2 separate regions of the Homo sapiens genome follow, and region 2 is linked to region 1. The links come from fine-mapping of genetic effects on gene expression. Tissue or cell type: testis. Region 1 holds a variant in brackets; the other region holds the start of a gene. All regions are shown on one strand. Distances are between the middles of the regions.

The links. PIP is the estimated chance that this variant, and not a neighbour inherited with it, causes the effect.
Region 2: CFAP161 starts here. The variant in region 1 is fine-mapped to the expression of CFAP161 in testis (GTEx, PIP 0.97).

The regions. Positions count from the first base shown.
Region 1 is chr15:81,489,401-81,497,507 of GRCh38, forward strand. No RefSeq gene overlaps it. Among named protein-coding and RNA genes, the nearest start is that of TMC3, 120 kb to the left of the region's middle. The variant T/C (reference allele first, on the strand shown) is at 4,703.
Region 2 is chr15:81,130,490-81,138,596 of GRCh38, forward strand. It overlaps CFAP161 (cilia and flagella associated protein 161), which reads left to right and starts at 3,781. Exons shown (of 7, transcript NM_173528.4): 1 at 3,781-3,909; 2 at 4,781-4,870; 3 at 6,027-6,259; 4 at 7,562-7,646. The coding sequence starts at 3,841.

The DNA.
Region 1 (8,107 bases):
ACCAAATAACCTTGAAGTTCATCTGAAAACTAAGCATGCAAAAATGTCCACAAAATGGTAGGACTTACCCTGCTGGATGTTAAAATTTATTACCAAACTTCGAAAAATCTGAACAACTACAAGCCAGCACCAGAATCAACTGATCAGAATAAAAATTATAAAAATTAGACTAGCACCTGTATGTGTGTTTATGTGCAAATCTCCAAAAATGCTAAAAATGGAATTTCATATTGATAGGGGCAACGATGGATTAGTCAAAAAGTAACATCAGGACAATTGCATAAGGAGAGAATTAATCAAGATCTCTCTTCAAACTTAAAACAAAAAAAGACAAAAATGTTAAAATTAAAAGTAGAATTAAGACAAAAACATAAAACATAGGTGAATTTATATAATTCTGAGGTAGGGAAGGCCTACCTTCTAAGCCTGGCACTAACAGCAGAAATTACAAACAAAATAGTTAATAGATTTGTATTTCGTAAACATGTAAAGAACCATAAAGTAATTTTTAAAACAATTGAAAAAAATAAGAAGTATATTTGTAAAAGACATGTCAGGCAAAGATTTAGTACACACAATATGCTAAAAGCTTCTACAATTAATAAGGAAAATATAAAATATTGACAAACTATCAGCTTGCAAATGAAAACAAATTTCTTTCATATTTTAAGAAATAAAACATTTATATTTTCTCTTTGTCATATTTGTTGCTGTAAATGTATAGTCAACTATTTTAATTCTCCTTTAATTTTTCATTGTTTCTTATGTAAAATATTTTTGTCCTAGAGGTATAATTCATTGAGCTTTAACTTTGTGACTTCAATTTTTTCTAGAAATTTGATGATCAATTAGATTTTCTGGGAACTTTTGACAATATTTGTTTTCTATAGTTTCTATAATTTGATTTTTATAATTTAACTCTTTAATATATTTGTAATTTATTTTGTATGCTATAAGATGTGGAGCTAATTTTATTTAACATTTAATGGTTCTAAAATAATGCATTAGATGTTTATTCTTTTCCTAATTTTTATATTATATAATGATAGACATTCATTTATGTATTCAACACCAATTATTGAGAATTTTGGTGGGCTGTGTGGTTGCTTTGTTAGCATAACAATTTTAATTGTTATAGCTTTAAAACATTTTTATATCTAGTAGTACTATCAACCTCAAGGGTAACTCCTTTTACATTTTTTAGTATATCTATATTCACTCTGTTTTCCTAAATCAATTTTGTGAATTTCCAAAAGGTCTTGCTATAGAAGTATTATAGATGTGAGTATAGATGAAAGTGTAGATGCATATTCATAGCTGGAGCATATTTGTTAAATGGATGGATAATTTGGTGCGGAGAAATAGGTTAAAATTCAAAGAACATAAGGCAAAACTTATTTGATGATGTTCCAGTTAGCATCATGGGCACACCAGATGGATCAGCCTTGGAGATAATGCATACAATATCTTCTGATCAGGAGAGAAGGAACTGAGGAAGTGGGGTGTATTAGTCCATTCTCATGTTGCTGCAAAGCTACTACCTGAGACTGGGTAACTTATAAAAGAAATAGATTTAATTGACTCACAGTTCAGCATGGCTGGGGAGGCCTCCAGAAACTCACAATCATGGCAGAAAGGGAAACAAACACGTTCTTCTTCACAGGGCGGCAGGAAGGAGGATGAATGAGTACCCAGTGAAGGGGGAAGCCCCTTATAAAACCATCAGATATCATGAGAACTAACTCACTATCACGAGAACAGGATGAGGGTAGCCGCCCATGATTTGATTTTTCTCCACCTGGTCCCTCCCACGACATGTGGGGATTACGGGAACTACAATTCAAGATGAGATTTTGGTGGGGACGCAGGCAAACCATATCAGGGGGAAACAGACCTGTGGTTGCCAGAGGAGGCCACCTCTGAGAAGGCATCCTTCCCAGAGAACGAAGATGCTCAGCAGAATGCAGAAGAAACTGGTTCCAATGGAAAGATTGTCAAAGAAAATGGTGTCACAAAAGGGAACTTTTGCAGAGATCTGTTGGGGGAAGAAATAGGAAGGAAAGAGCAATCTCTTTGCAAAGAATGCACACCTGAAATGATCTGGCAAGTGCACGGTGGTATTAGAGAGAAGGTGGAGATTATCCCACAGGGAGGTATGACCTCGATTTTATGGTTATATAACATTTCAATAATGCATGTGCATGCTGCACTCTAAGAACAAACATTCCTTATCTCCAATGTAAACCTAGAGTGCTGGTTACTGCACACCATCTTTTGGGTATATCTTGGCTTAATGAACATGCCCCTAGGAAAGATGTAGGGTAAATGCTGAGATTGCCACAGGCGACTTTCTTCTCACTAGGAGTGGAATTCTATGAGCAAAAGTAGAGAAAAAAAGGAGGTCAGGAAAAAGTGGAGAATAAGGGAAGGTGACAACAAGCTCTGAGCTTCTCTTCTAGAGCTCTGTTCTGAGACATGATCTCATGCGTTTTCGTAATATTCTTATAAGATGAGTAAGAAGCAGTTATCACCACCTGAACTTGACAGAGAGGAGAGTGGTTCCATAGAGATTAGAATCCCTCTCTTAAGAGGTGGCAATTTGTTAATATAATCGGGAATATAACAAGGTGGTTTAGTAGCCTCCTGGGTCTACACAGTCTTAAAGAGAGGTGTTGTTATTTTTAAATAAAATGGACTATCATCATTGACACAAGACAGTGAGATATTTTACTAATTTAATTGATTTTCTTGCTCTCACTGAATCGAATTAATTTATTTGCACATGTTGACAGAGACCCAGAAAAAAAGCTGTAACCATCAGTCAGCACAGCCTCATTTCAGGATGAAAAGTGGTTTCAGCTCATGGCTCAGTGCCTGGGAAGGAAATGTGAATCCCCGCTCAGAGGAAGGTGTGCTTCATCCAGCAGCAGGAGCTGCTTTGGGGCTTATTATTCAAATTTGGCAGAATGGAGGATGGTCTGGCAAAGGGGCCAGGTTTATAGATGAAAGAGCCTATGGTCAAGTGATTGGAGATGGGAGAATTTGCTGTGTTTTGGGCAGAAAGTCTGGCTGCAGCCTCCCCTCGGCACCTTGCCCATTGGAACAATGATGGAGATCCGCCAAGAGGATCACAGCAGACTGGCTTGCTCATACAGCCTGGCTTACGGGTGTGCACTACAGAACATTCACCCTGATCTCAATAGTGGAGCATGTGGTGGTGGGGGTGCTGAGAAAGCCCACATCAATACCTTTATTAAGGCTCTTAGCACTTCTGCAGCTGAACAACATTTAACATGTACATACTCCTAACATTCAATACATTCAATTTGGAAATGTAACCTTTGGTGATGGAGGAGAATGTGAGTCTCTTTATCACCACCCCCAAAATCCAAGGGCTCTAGTGTCAGGGACTGGCAGATTTCCCAAAGCATTGGAATTTTTCCCCCTCAAAGAAAAGCACAGCTGAGATTTTAACTATATGTTAGCTGGGGAGTCTAAATTAAATGGAGAAGGTTTGAGTGTTTTGAAGAAAGGATAAGTTTTCCTTTATTTTCTTTTTCCTTTCATATTTTTTCACCAGCAGCACTGATGTGGCACTCAGCTATTTGGCAAGCCAAACTGCCCCCCTGAGGTGATAGTTACCAAGGTGCTTTGCCCATAATTGCCACCCGATAAAGGCTTGACTGGTTGATCATTTAATTACATGCTGTGTATTTCTTGACTTTCTTCCAGAATCAAGCAGATTTATAGCAGACCCAACACCACAGTAGGTCAACATTAGGGGCTAATCAATTCTAGTATTTGTGCAGTGCTGTTCTCTTAACAAAGCGTACTCGTTCTCATCTAATTCCTTATTCCACACATGACGACTCTGGAGACCATTAATCAGGGCTCAACAGACTTGATCTGTAAAGGTCCAGATTGTAAATACTTTAGGCTTGTGGGCCAAATACTCTCTGTTTCAACAACTCAGCTCTACCACTGTCATGTGAAAGCAGCCCTAGACAATAGGTAAATGAATGGCTGTGACTGTGTTCCAATAAAACTTTATTTATAAAAACAGGTATTGAGCTAGCTTTGACCATGAGCCATAGTGTGCCCTGGAGTCACTGATAACCTGACATTGCCCATTAAAGATCGAATGCCCAATGAAACTATATCTTGTTTCTTTAATTCCGCCTACACCATAACTCATTTTTAAAGGATTTTTTCTTTTTTTACTTCTAGTTTTAGATTCAACTGTAATAGTTCATAATAATCAATGTTTGGTAACAACGGTGACTCCAACCTCACTCTGTCTAGATCTAGATTGTTACCCTACCAAAGTCCTTGCCCGTTGTGCTGGTAGAAGTGAGTCATTCAAGAAATAAACTAAAGAAGGAGCAGCATGGCTCAGAGTCCCTAAGCCAAATGCTGTTGTTAAGGACTGTGAATAGTGCAGGGTCTGCCTGCAGAGCCCCACGTGTGCCTGTGCTGTGCCTGTTGGACACCTTAGCACCCCTCCTCACATATAACCCTGCCAGACAGTCACTTGCTCTCCTTTCATTTTAGAGATGAGCAAACCCAGGCCGAGAGCAGTTAAAAGAGCTCCTCGAGGTCACCCACAAGGTCATGTGCAGTTGCTCAAGGCCCCATCCTCCGAAGGGGACCCCACATGATTGTATTAATGCTCTGCTATTGCCATTTCAAATTCTTAATAAAT[T/C]TTGAACAAAGGGGTCTGTATTTCCACTGGGTTCTGCAAATCGTATTCTGTTTCCTTGCTACACAGCTGATAAGAGTGGAGCTGGGATTCAAACCCAACTCTGTCAGGCCTTTCCTTAACTCTGTGTTCTTCTCACCATTGACCCCCAAGTGATTGCATTGAGGGAAGATTTTGTTATCACCGGCTCAGCTTCACTTGGGTGATATATTTGCCGGGGCCAGACAGAGATGTGCTCAAGGGACCAAATCCATTTGACCCATATCAAACATACAAAACTCAGCACAAAATATTGTTTAATCATGTGATCCAAAAGATCACAAGAAAGTAATTTACATTTGTAAGGTATGTTGACTTTCATTATCTAACATAATCCCTCTCATTTCCCTATAAGTGGATGTTACTATCTCAAGTTTCAAGTGAAGAAACTGAGGCCCAGAAAAAGTTAAATAACTTGCAAAAGGGAGACAGCCAATCCAGCTGCATATCCAATTTTTCTCTCTTGAAGTGAAAAGAATCCCTTTTTCCAGGTCTCACCTCAATATCCAGGTTTGTAAGTGATTCCTGGAATGGGATATAATTATTTCCAGGTATGCAGACTCACACTAAACGTCTGCCAATAAACAGTTAAAGAAAAGAGAAAAGTGTGCCATTTCCTTCTAAAAAAGAGCCCTGCCTCCCCCTTCATTTGTTAGGGTAGATGATGTGGCTTTCCGTCCATTGAGTGTCTCTAGGAAAGACTCAACTAGAAAAGCTCTGTGTGTACTCCAAAGGAGATGTTAAGTGGGGACCCCATAAAACTTAAGTAGAAGCAGGCATTTTTCCTGGAAAATACTCACTCTGATGTGGCCGTACATTATGTTTTACAGTGCTGCCTCAGCAACAGCAAAAAGAAAAGCCTGCTGCCCCCAGATTCATGGCATGGATTTGCAACCCATCAATCATGGGGAAAAATTATTTCAATAAAGCCCTCTCCACAAGTTGAAGCAAGGCTACGGTGCACTTGAGGAGTCTATAATCCAGAAACCACAGCTAGCCAACTTGTGAAAAGTAAATTCTAGGTGTTAAATATGACAGCTTCCTCCTCCCTGGGGTTCTGAGGCATTCAGATGAATTCACCAAGAATATTGGGACTGCAGGGACCACGATGTGGGAGCCCCAGCTCTACCACTTACTCGCAGTGCAATCTGAAACAAGTTACCGTTTATTGTGTTGCTTCAATTTCTTCAACTAAAACAATGCTGATCATAACAATCTCATACATTTGCTGTAGGGATAAAATAGACAATAGTAATATTTGAAAGCAAAGCATAAACATTCTTTAAAAAACCTGGAGAGTAAACTGTAATAACATAACATAAATGTTGGTATTGCATTTGAGTTTCCAAACCCTGAAGGTGATCACATTAAGACTGCAGGATTACCTGCAAAAAAAAAAAAATACAGTATAGAATTAAGGAACTCAGGGTCCAAGCAAGAAAGCTATGGCACAGCCCAGAAGAGGCAACTGAAGAGAGTTTAATGAAGGGCCTATTTACAAGGGAGTGAGTAGGTTGTAGAGACCAAAGGAAGGGTAATATAAATGCCTTTGGGTTTTCAGCTGCCTGGAAGGTTCTCTTCCAGAACCTGCAGAGAGCTACTGCTAGAGGATAGGACCTTAGGCAGAACACAGCCTGTGCCAGATTATGGGATGAGGAGGATGGAAATTAACACTTGTACTCTCCTCACTCTCCTCTCACCATCTCCTGTCAGTGCCTCCCATAGGCTGAAACCAACTGGAAGCCACAGGGCAAGGGAAGCCTTGGGTGCAGTTTCTAAGAGTCTGTCTGTGGGGCAGAAAACCGGGTGGAGAAGGGTGGAGAGTTGACTTGAAGAAGCACATAGAGAACATCTGGCACAAGGGACATTAAAAAGCAGTGACTCCCATGTTTGGCTAATTCTTCAATTTCAATGGGGATTAATATACATACTATATACATACATCCATGCAGCCTTGTACTTCGATATGCTAATTTTGAGAGCTGGCCTGAGGTTCCCCAGGTGATCTTGATGATCTTACAGATGTGGAAACACAAAAAGACGTTCATTGAGAGTGTTTCCATCCCCGGCATGCAATAGATGTGCAACCACACATGTGCTGCAAGAATCTGATCTCTTGAAGTGCTTGCCCGACTGCCTCCCACCCAGTTCAAAACAACCAATGCTGATTGCACAGCTGCAACGCGCAAAGCACTGTAATTAGTTTTTCTGCATGGAATTTGCTTTCCAACCCCTGCAAATATATATATATGTAAAAGATAGGGTCCACGGTACTCAAAGTTCTTTCATTTAGTAAGAATAAAGATTTTGTAAGAGTAAAATAATTTTATGAAACTTCAAAGCAGTAATAGGGGAAATGGTGTAAGAGATTACTTTGTAAGTGCAAAGTAGGACAAATTTCACTGCTGGAGAGGGATAAGAGGAAGACTTATTCACAGCAACTGGGTAGAATAGGTGACTCCTCACTATCCCCATTTCACAGATTGGCATGGTAAGGCCCAGCAGTGGCTGCATTGTGACTTTCATGGACCCTCCTCCATAAAAAAAATTTAAGATTATATTTTAGAATTACATTGGTAGAAAGACAAATATAATCCAGGCTGAATTATATTCACTTTTTTCTTTTGATTAAAAAAATGTAAAGCATTTGTGTGGGCTGCTAAAAGTATCATGGGCCTTAAGCACCACGCCTGCTGTGCCGAATGGAGAAGTCAGCCCTGAGCATTAGGTGACGTACCTCCACACACACACAGCCGGGAAGCAAAATTCTCATCAGCTGTCAGGCTCTAGAGCTATGGCTGCACCTTAGGAGAAGCTGGGTTGCTCCCTCAAATCCCCACTCTCAGCTGGCACCCAGACAAGTTAAGTCAGAATTTCTGAGTATGGGGACAAGGCACCAGACATCAGAGGTCCCAGGTGATCCCAATGGGTAGACAAGGTTGACAGCCATGCTTGAAAGTCCTCTGTCCCACGCTTCTTCCTTCTTAAGGGAGCACAGAAGAGACTCATTTTCATATCCACCAGATGATCTCTCCTGTGACTAAGGTGAGGGTGCATATTTTATATCAATGCATACACTTCCATCATCTGCCCTTGCTATTCTCTACAGCTTTTTCTTCCCTTCTCAGGCTCTCACAACAGGGCTCCTCCCTGTCCTGGAAGAGATTTCGTGTGTTCCTGCCTTAGCTCACATGGTTTCCTAATGTGTAATTCTCCTCTCCACCTACCTGGACTCAAATCCAGCCCTACCGCAGCAGGCCTTCTGTGCCTTCTCCAGGTGATGGATGCCTCTGAACCCGTGCACAGTCGGCCTGCTCTCAGAGCCAGGCTCAGAGAGGGCCAGCTGGCAGCAGTGCCCTGGGCTTTCCA
Region 2 (8,107 bases), 360 kb before region 1:
GGAGAGTGAGACCATCCTGGCTAACATGGTGAAACTCCCTCTCTACTAAAAATACAAAAAATTAGCTGGGTGTGGTGGCATGCGCCTGTAGTCTCAGCTACTTGGGAGGCTGAGGCAGGAGAATCGCTTGAACCTGGGAGGTGGAGGTTGTAGTGAGCCAAGATCGTGCCACTGCACTCCAGCCTGGGCAACAGAGCGAGACTCCATCTCAAAAACAAAAACAAAAACAAAACAGAGACAGACATTTGGCTCTTCCTTTCACTTGAACACTTGAACACTTAGTGGCCATTTTAGGGTTATTAATTGTCCTAATTTATATATTGTTGTGTCTCAGGGACTGGGAAGGCCTGAGGAGAGGGAGAGAGATGGGGACATGGCTGGTAGGTGGAGCAGTCAGAACACCTAACATTTATTGATTGGATTTGCTATCTTATATGCCCATGGTTCATGGTGCCCCAAACAACTACAATGGCAACATCAAAAATCACTGATCACAGATCACCATAATAGATATAATAATAAGGAAGTTTGAAATATCTTGAGCATTACCAAAATGTGACACAGAGACGTGAAGTGAGCGTATGCTGTTGGAAAAATGGCTCCAACACACTTGCCTGATGCAGGCTTGCCAAAAACCTTCAATTTGTAAAAAAAAAAAAAAAAAAAGAATCAATATCTGCAAAGTGCAATAAAGTGAATTGCAATAAAATGATGTATTCCTGTATCTAAAATGTCTAGTTTTCAACAAAAAATCATGAGACCTGCAAAGAAACAGAAAACTGTGATCCACAGACAGAAAGAAGATAAAAAACAAACAAACAAAAAAGTCAACAGAAACTGCCTTTGACAGAGCCCAGATGTTGGACTTAGCAGACAAAGACTTCAAAGCAGCCATTATAAATATGTTCAAAAAACTAAGGGATACCATGATTAAAGAATTAAAGGAAGGTATGATGATAGTGTTTCATTATGAAATATAAAATATCAATAGAGAGAAATTATAAAATATAACCGAATGTAAATTCTGTAGTTGAAAAGTACCATAACCAAAATAAAAAACTCACTAGCGGAATACAGCAGTAAGTTTGAGCCAGCAAAACAAAAATTTGCAAACTTGAAGACAAATCAATAGAAATTATGCAATCTGAAGAACAGAGAGAAAAAAATGAAGAAAAACAAATAGCATCTTGGAGGAATGCAGGATATCAGTAAGTGCATCAATATACACATGATGGGAGTTTCATAAAGACAGAAGACAGACAAAGGATCAGAAAAAATATTCCAAACAATAAGGCCTGAAAATTCCCCAAATTTGATGAAAAGAGCATTAATTTACATATTCAGGCAGCTCAAGCAGGATAAAAGAAAAGAGGTCAATATCCAAATATATCTAGTTAAAATATTAAAGACAAAGACAAAAAAAATCTTGAAAGCAGCAAGAGTATGTGTAAGGGAAGCAAAATAAGATTAATAGCTGATTTCTCATCAGAAATAATGGAGGCCATGGCTGGGCAGGGTGGCTTATGCCTGTAATCCCAGCACTTTGGAAGGCTGAGGAGGGCCGATCACTTGAGGTCAGGAGTTCAAGACCAGCCTGGCCAACCTGGTAAAACCCCATCTCTACTAAAAATACAAAAATTACCCAGGCATGGTGGCACATGCCTTTAGCCCCAGGTACTCAGGAGGCTGAGGCATGAGAATTGCTTGAACCTGGGAAGCAGAGGTTGCAGTGAGCCGAGATTGTGCTGCTGTACTCCAGCCAGGTTGATAGAGTGAGACTCTGTCTTGGAAGAAAAAGAAATAAGGGAGTCCAGAGGTAGTAGGATGGCATATTTAAAATATTGAAAGAAAGAAAAAAACGCTATCAACAAAGAATCATGTATCCAGAAAAAGCATCTTATTAAGGTAAGCAAAAACCAAGAGAATGTGTTGCTAGCAGACCTGATTTATAAGAAATATGGAAGGAAGTTATTCAGGTTGAAAACAACACAAAGCAGTAATTTGTGTTCATAGAAAAATACCATAGAGCACCAATAAAGATATTTCTTCTCCTGAGTGATTTAAAGCAATTGTATAAAACACTATGTATAATTGTATTATTGGGTCTATTATATATAGAAATGTAATATACTTGTCAAAAATAGCACTAAGGAAGTAGGTGGGAGCAAAGCTGTATCAGTGTAAGGACTTACTGAATGACCCAATCATTAGAACCTTGTTAAAAATGTAGAGACTAGAGCTGCTTTGTTTTATTCTTGATTTTATGAGGAATATGAAAAATACTTAAAAGGAAAAACAAACAAACATGACTTTGGAGTCGGAAAGTTTGGACTGAGTCCTTTCTTTGAGCAACTTTTAGCAGTTTGAATTTAGACTGCTAGCTTCTTTGAGTCTCAGTTTCTGAATTTATCAAATGCAGTTAGTGGTATACTATCTGATCTAACTGCTTTGTCCTATGTGTCCTTCAGAAGTATCCTCGAATGTGGTGATATATTGACAGAGCTGGTGGATTCATCAGAATGTGGGAATGTTCCTATTTTTATTCTACACTTCAGCCTGCCAGTTCAAATCCTTCCCAGTTCAGCTCCAAAGCAGCCCCTCTCCCATCACTCAAAGGCCATCCAATTCCCATTCTCACAGTTCCTCAAGACAGAAAGGATCCTTCAACTCCATGGCCCTTCATCAGCATATATATATATATATATATATATATATATATATATATATATATATATGTATTTTTTTTTAAATTGGAGATGGGGTCTCACTATGTTGCCCAGGCTGGTCTAGAACTCCTGGGCTCAAGTGATCCTCCTGCCTCGGCTTCCCAAAGTGCTGGATTATAGGCTTGAGCCACCACGCCAGCCCATCAGCACATCTTTAATTGCATTTTTCCACAGTCTTCCTTAAGTAATTCGTTTTCATGAACTATCTTTTCTTTTAGACTGGGTTTGCTGAAGGGAGCGGAGGCTCCTGTCTTCCATTTCAGTCATGTCTTACTAGACACTAAATAGAGGTAAATTACTGAATGCATTCAATCTGCATCAAGCCTCCGGTAGTCCTACAGTAACTGGTATCCCTCCCCTCCCCAGAAAATAATATTTTGTTTTATTAATGCTGGCTACAGCAGAGTCTGGTTTTCTTAAGAGTTCCTGCAAATCACAGGTTCGTCCTTTAACTTTGAGACCCAGGGAAGGAGGGAGCAAGGGAGGGAGGGAGGGAGGATGCTGTCAAGTCCGCAAAAATATGGACAACCTCAGAAACCTATAAACAGAAATATACTAACATGGTATATTTCTTACTTTTAAGGCCCTGAAATTATTAATTTTCCTTTCTTCTTTCTATGCGATTTTGGTTTCCAAATGTGTACATTGAGCAGGTATTGTTTTATGATTAGGGCGAAATTGCTGCTGCTGCTGCTGCTGCTGCTGCTGCTGATTACAAAAAATAGGCTGCAAGCAAGCCGTGCTTCCATTTAAAAGCTCCTCTTTGTTGCCTCGACAAGCAAGGGGTACTCGATAGCACTTTTCGGTTAGATTCTAATAGAAAGAAAGCTTTAAATTTCTCTCTCGGAAGCACTTTGTCAGCCAGGGTTTTCCCTCTCGCCCACCCTGCAGTTAAGGAAATCTAAGAGGTGGAAGTGGGGCGGGCTGGAGGGCCACAGACAGCCGCTGACCCAGACGCCCCATCTCCCGCCCCAGGGCGAGGGTGCGCGCTGTCGCTTATTGGCCAGCAGGGTCCCAGACCTTGACCAATCGCCTGGGGCCGGGTCGTCATGGCGACGCGCCACGCTAACGCATGGTGTCGGAGGGAGGCCCACTTGCTGAACAGCAGGGAGCGATGGCGCAGAACGTGTATGGTCCGGGAGTCCGGATAGGCAACTGGAATGAGGATGTCTACCTGGAGGAGGTACGCAGGGTGTGGCCAGGCGCAGACCCGCAGCTCAGGAACTCCCAGACCCTGCTCTAAGTTCAGTCTCCTACTTTGAGCGCCTCAAGCCTCCTCTCTCTCCCAGCATACAGCGAATACCTCTAAAATCCCCCACTTCTCTAAACTCCCAAGGAATCTCACCTGCCGAACTGCAAACCCAGGTCTCACTGACCTCTACTCCGAGCACCCTGACTTTTCTTTCTCTGGGTCCCTTGGCCTCCCAAAGTCAGATGCCTTGACTCTCAAGCCCCTGGCCTGTGTCTCCCGCTTAGTCTAGAGCCCCACTAAGTCCCCCGTATTCCTTAGAGTCTTACAGTCTCAGGCTGCGGGCCAGGTGAGGACACAGGTTCTAGGTAGAAATAATATCCCTCCCCACTCCAACCCTGCCACGCTTGCCCTCTTAAATGACCCTGAGTATTCCTTTTATTGACGTTGTACTCACTCACTGCCTCGTATTCTCCCAAGGGTGGTCTTAACAAGGCTTTGAGCCATTCGTATACGGGTCAGATTGGGGAGGGGTGAACTTTCTAGTGTCAGTCATCATACGGTCAAGGGAAACCCCAGCAGGGGAGACATGGCCTCCAAATGTCATTTAGGATGGTATCTGGCTGGAGTAATTACTGGTGATGTTTCTTTTTCTTTGTTTTGCCTTTCTCATTTTTCTAAACATTCTATAATGTAGTAAAAATATTAAAGTAGTGCTAAAAACGTTCCATCATTCCAATTATGCTCACATCTCTTTTTTTGTACTCAAATTTTGCTTTTTCAACTTGGAAGAGCTTCTGACCTAAAAGTTATTAATACTAACATCTATATTATTCAGGGCTACTTTTGTTGATTTTCTGTTTAGGAGCTCATGAAAGACTTCTTAGAGAAGAGAGACAAGGGGAAACTTCTCATACAGAGAAGTAGAAGACTAAAACAGAATCTCTTGAGACCGGTAACTTTTTTTTTTTTTATTACACTTTAAGTTTTAGGGTACATGTGCACAACGTGCAGGTTTGTTACATATGTATACATATGCTATGTTGGTGTGCTGCACCCATTAACTCGTCATTTAACATTAGGTATATCTCCTAATGCTATCCCTCTCCCCTCCCCCCACCCCACAACAGGCCCCAGTGTGCGATGTTCCCCTTCCTGTGTCCATGTGTTCTCCATTGTTCAATTCCCACCTATGAGTGAGAATATGCGGTGTTTGGTTTTCTGTCCCTGCGATAGTTTGCTCAGAATGATGGTTTCCAGCTTCATCCATGTCCCTACAAAGGACATGAACTCATCATTTTTTATGGCTGCATAGTATTCCATGGTGTATATGTGCCACATTTTCTTAATCCAGTCTATCGTTGTTGGACATTTAGGTTGGTTCCAAGTCTTTGCTATTGTGAATAGTGCCGCAGTTGGTGGGACTGTAAACTAGTTCAACCATTGTGGAAGTCAGTGTGGCAATTCCTCAGGGATCTAGAACTAGAAATACCATTTGACCCAGACATCCCATTACTGGGTATATACCCAAAGGATTATAAAACATGCTGCTATAAAGACACATGCACACGTATGTTTATTGAGACCGGTAACTTTAAATTCAGACATTGTTTTCAAAATTCTGTTGAACTTGGTGTGAGTATATGTTAAGCAAGAAAAAAATTTCATAACTGAGTTACCATTTGGAAAATAACAGTTTTTAAAAACAATTTGCAATGTTTTAAATTCTTCTAAGATTTTAGAAACATAAACAGTCTGCCCTAAATCATGTTTACCTGCATTTTACAAATAAAGAAATAAATGAGTTAATATGTAAATAAGTAAAATGCCCCTTAGTTGGTAATCGACAAATTTTTCAATGAATGTTGAATTTCTAGGATAATGAGTAAATCCATGTGATTTTAACCAGCTTTATTCGACTTCATTTGGAATTATTGGGAGCTTTGCCTTGGCAAAGGGGAAGGGAAAGGAAGAAGGAACTAAGGGTTCGAGGGAATCCAAGTGAAATCCTGAATGAAATGGGTACTAGTCCGAGAAGGAAGAAAATTGCCTTGGCAGTAACTGTTGAGGAATTGCATGGTTTATGTAATAAACTACTATCAAAATTGTAGATGCAACTTTCCGTAACTGAAGATGGCTATATTCATTACGGTGACAAAGTGATGCTTGTGAATCCTGATGATCCTGACACAGAAGCTGATGTGTTTCTGCGTGGGGACCTGAGCCTGTGTATGACTCCAGATGAAATTCAGTCCCATCTGAAAGACGAATTAGAGGTACCCTGTGGCCTGAGCGCAGTTCAAGCCAAGACCCCAATTGGCAGAAACACTTTTATCATTTTGAGGTAAAGAGACTTTAATTTTCAGTTCATTTTCATCATAAATATGTTTCACTTGTAGCTTAAAGATTCCTGGGTATTGGAGCCACTGAGTGGAGGGAAAGGTTTTGTGAACATTTTTCGTGATTTTCATCTTGCTTTGCTTACCTTGAGAATTATTGTCAAAGGAACTTTACAATCCCTTTTTACCTTAGACAGCAGGATAATTGTGTTCAATTCAAAATGCTTAAATCATGAGTATAGGATCCAGGGAATTAAATCCATATTCTGCCTGGAAGCAAAGTAGGTTTTCCCTATAACATTTTGGAACTTTTTGAGCTCATTTGAGTGTTTTCATTGTTCTTAATACGGCTATTTTTTTTTTTACAATAAAAACGTGTAGTTTAATACAATGTGGCACTAGATGGGATTTTCTCTTTTAAAATTAACTGTCCATTAAAAATGTATTTGAAGAGATTTTGAAAATGAACAATTAAATCCTTAGAGAAGAAATAGATACATGATCACAATTAAAAACTATTACTAATTCGTATGACAGCAATGTAAGCATTGCAAGAATATATGGACCCAGGCAAGGTACAGTGGCTCATGCCTGTAATCCCAATACTTTGGGAAGTCAAGGCAGGCAGATCACCTGAGGTCTGGAGTTCGAGACCAGCCTGGCCAACATGTCGAAACCCCATCTCTACAAAAAATACAAAAAATTAGCTGGGCGTGGTGGCAGGCTCCTGTAATTCCAGCTACTTGTGTCACTGAAGCATGAGAATCACTTGAACCTGGGAGGTGGAGGTTGCAGTGAGCCAAGATTGCACCACTGAACTCCAGCCTGGGGGAAAAAAAAGAATATATAGACAGTTCTTCAAGTTCTAATTTAGATTTCCTTTGAATACATATGTTAAGACAAGTAAAAATTGATCACAACCTCTGTTATCCTGAAGGATTAAGAGGGAACCGTATTAAATGTCTACAAATGTGTTACCTTGGTTCTCTCTGAACATGTCAATGCACTTGACCAGAATTCCTTAGTATACATTAGCAAGATGTGCTTAGTTTACTCTAACCAGAGGCTCACAAAGTGGGGATGCTTTGTGTGCTAGCTATGGTGCAGGGCAGGGAGTAGGGTGCTAGCTGGATTTTAAGACCAAAAGAAAACACCTTTTATTTAATTACCTAATTCAGTTACAGTATGTGAATATAAATTATCAAAAAACTGATTATAAACAAAATTGCATGCATAAAAAATAGAGTCATAGAATGATTCTAATACAGAGAGTTTACATTTACATTATACTTATTGTCCACTGACAGTGTACACAGAGATGCCACTGGTCAAGTCCTTAGATATGGGCAGGACTTTTGCCTGGGGATAACAGGAGGATTTGACAACAAAATGGTGAGTTATCACTTTGCATATCTACTTTGGATCAGTCATTTCTGTTGCCCAAAATGGGATCATAACTATCTACTGAAGTGGACAGAGAACTCCAGAGTCATGGGCTCCACCTCTGACTTCACTATGGTGTCAGCTTGCAGCTTTTCACAGGCAGTTTTGGGCCAAGCCAGTCTTTCCTTTTAACTTCCCAAATTACAAAAACTACACCCTTAAAACCTAAACAGTAAGGGAGGAAAACCATTTCACAATGCAGCTGGCAAAAAGCAAAAGTTTATACCACTTCCACCTGTAAATTAAATGATTGAATTCATTAATAACCATCTGATACCTGTCAAATGTTGCCAATGCTAGCAAGGCATATTATCTGACAACTTTTTTATTTAAACTTTTGATGATCAGACTTTTGCTTAGTATGGGAGTAGGGACAATATGAGATGCTTAAATTTGCATAAATCAGGGAG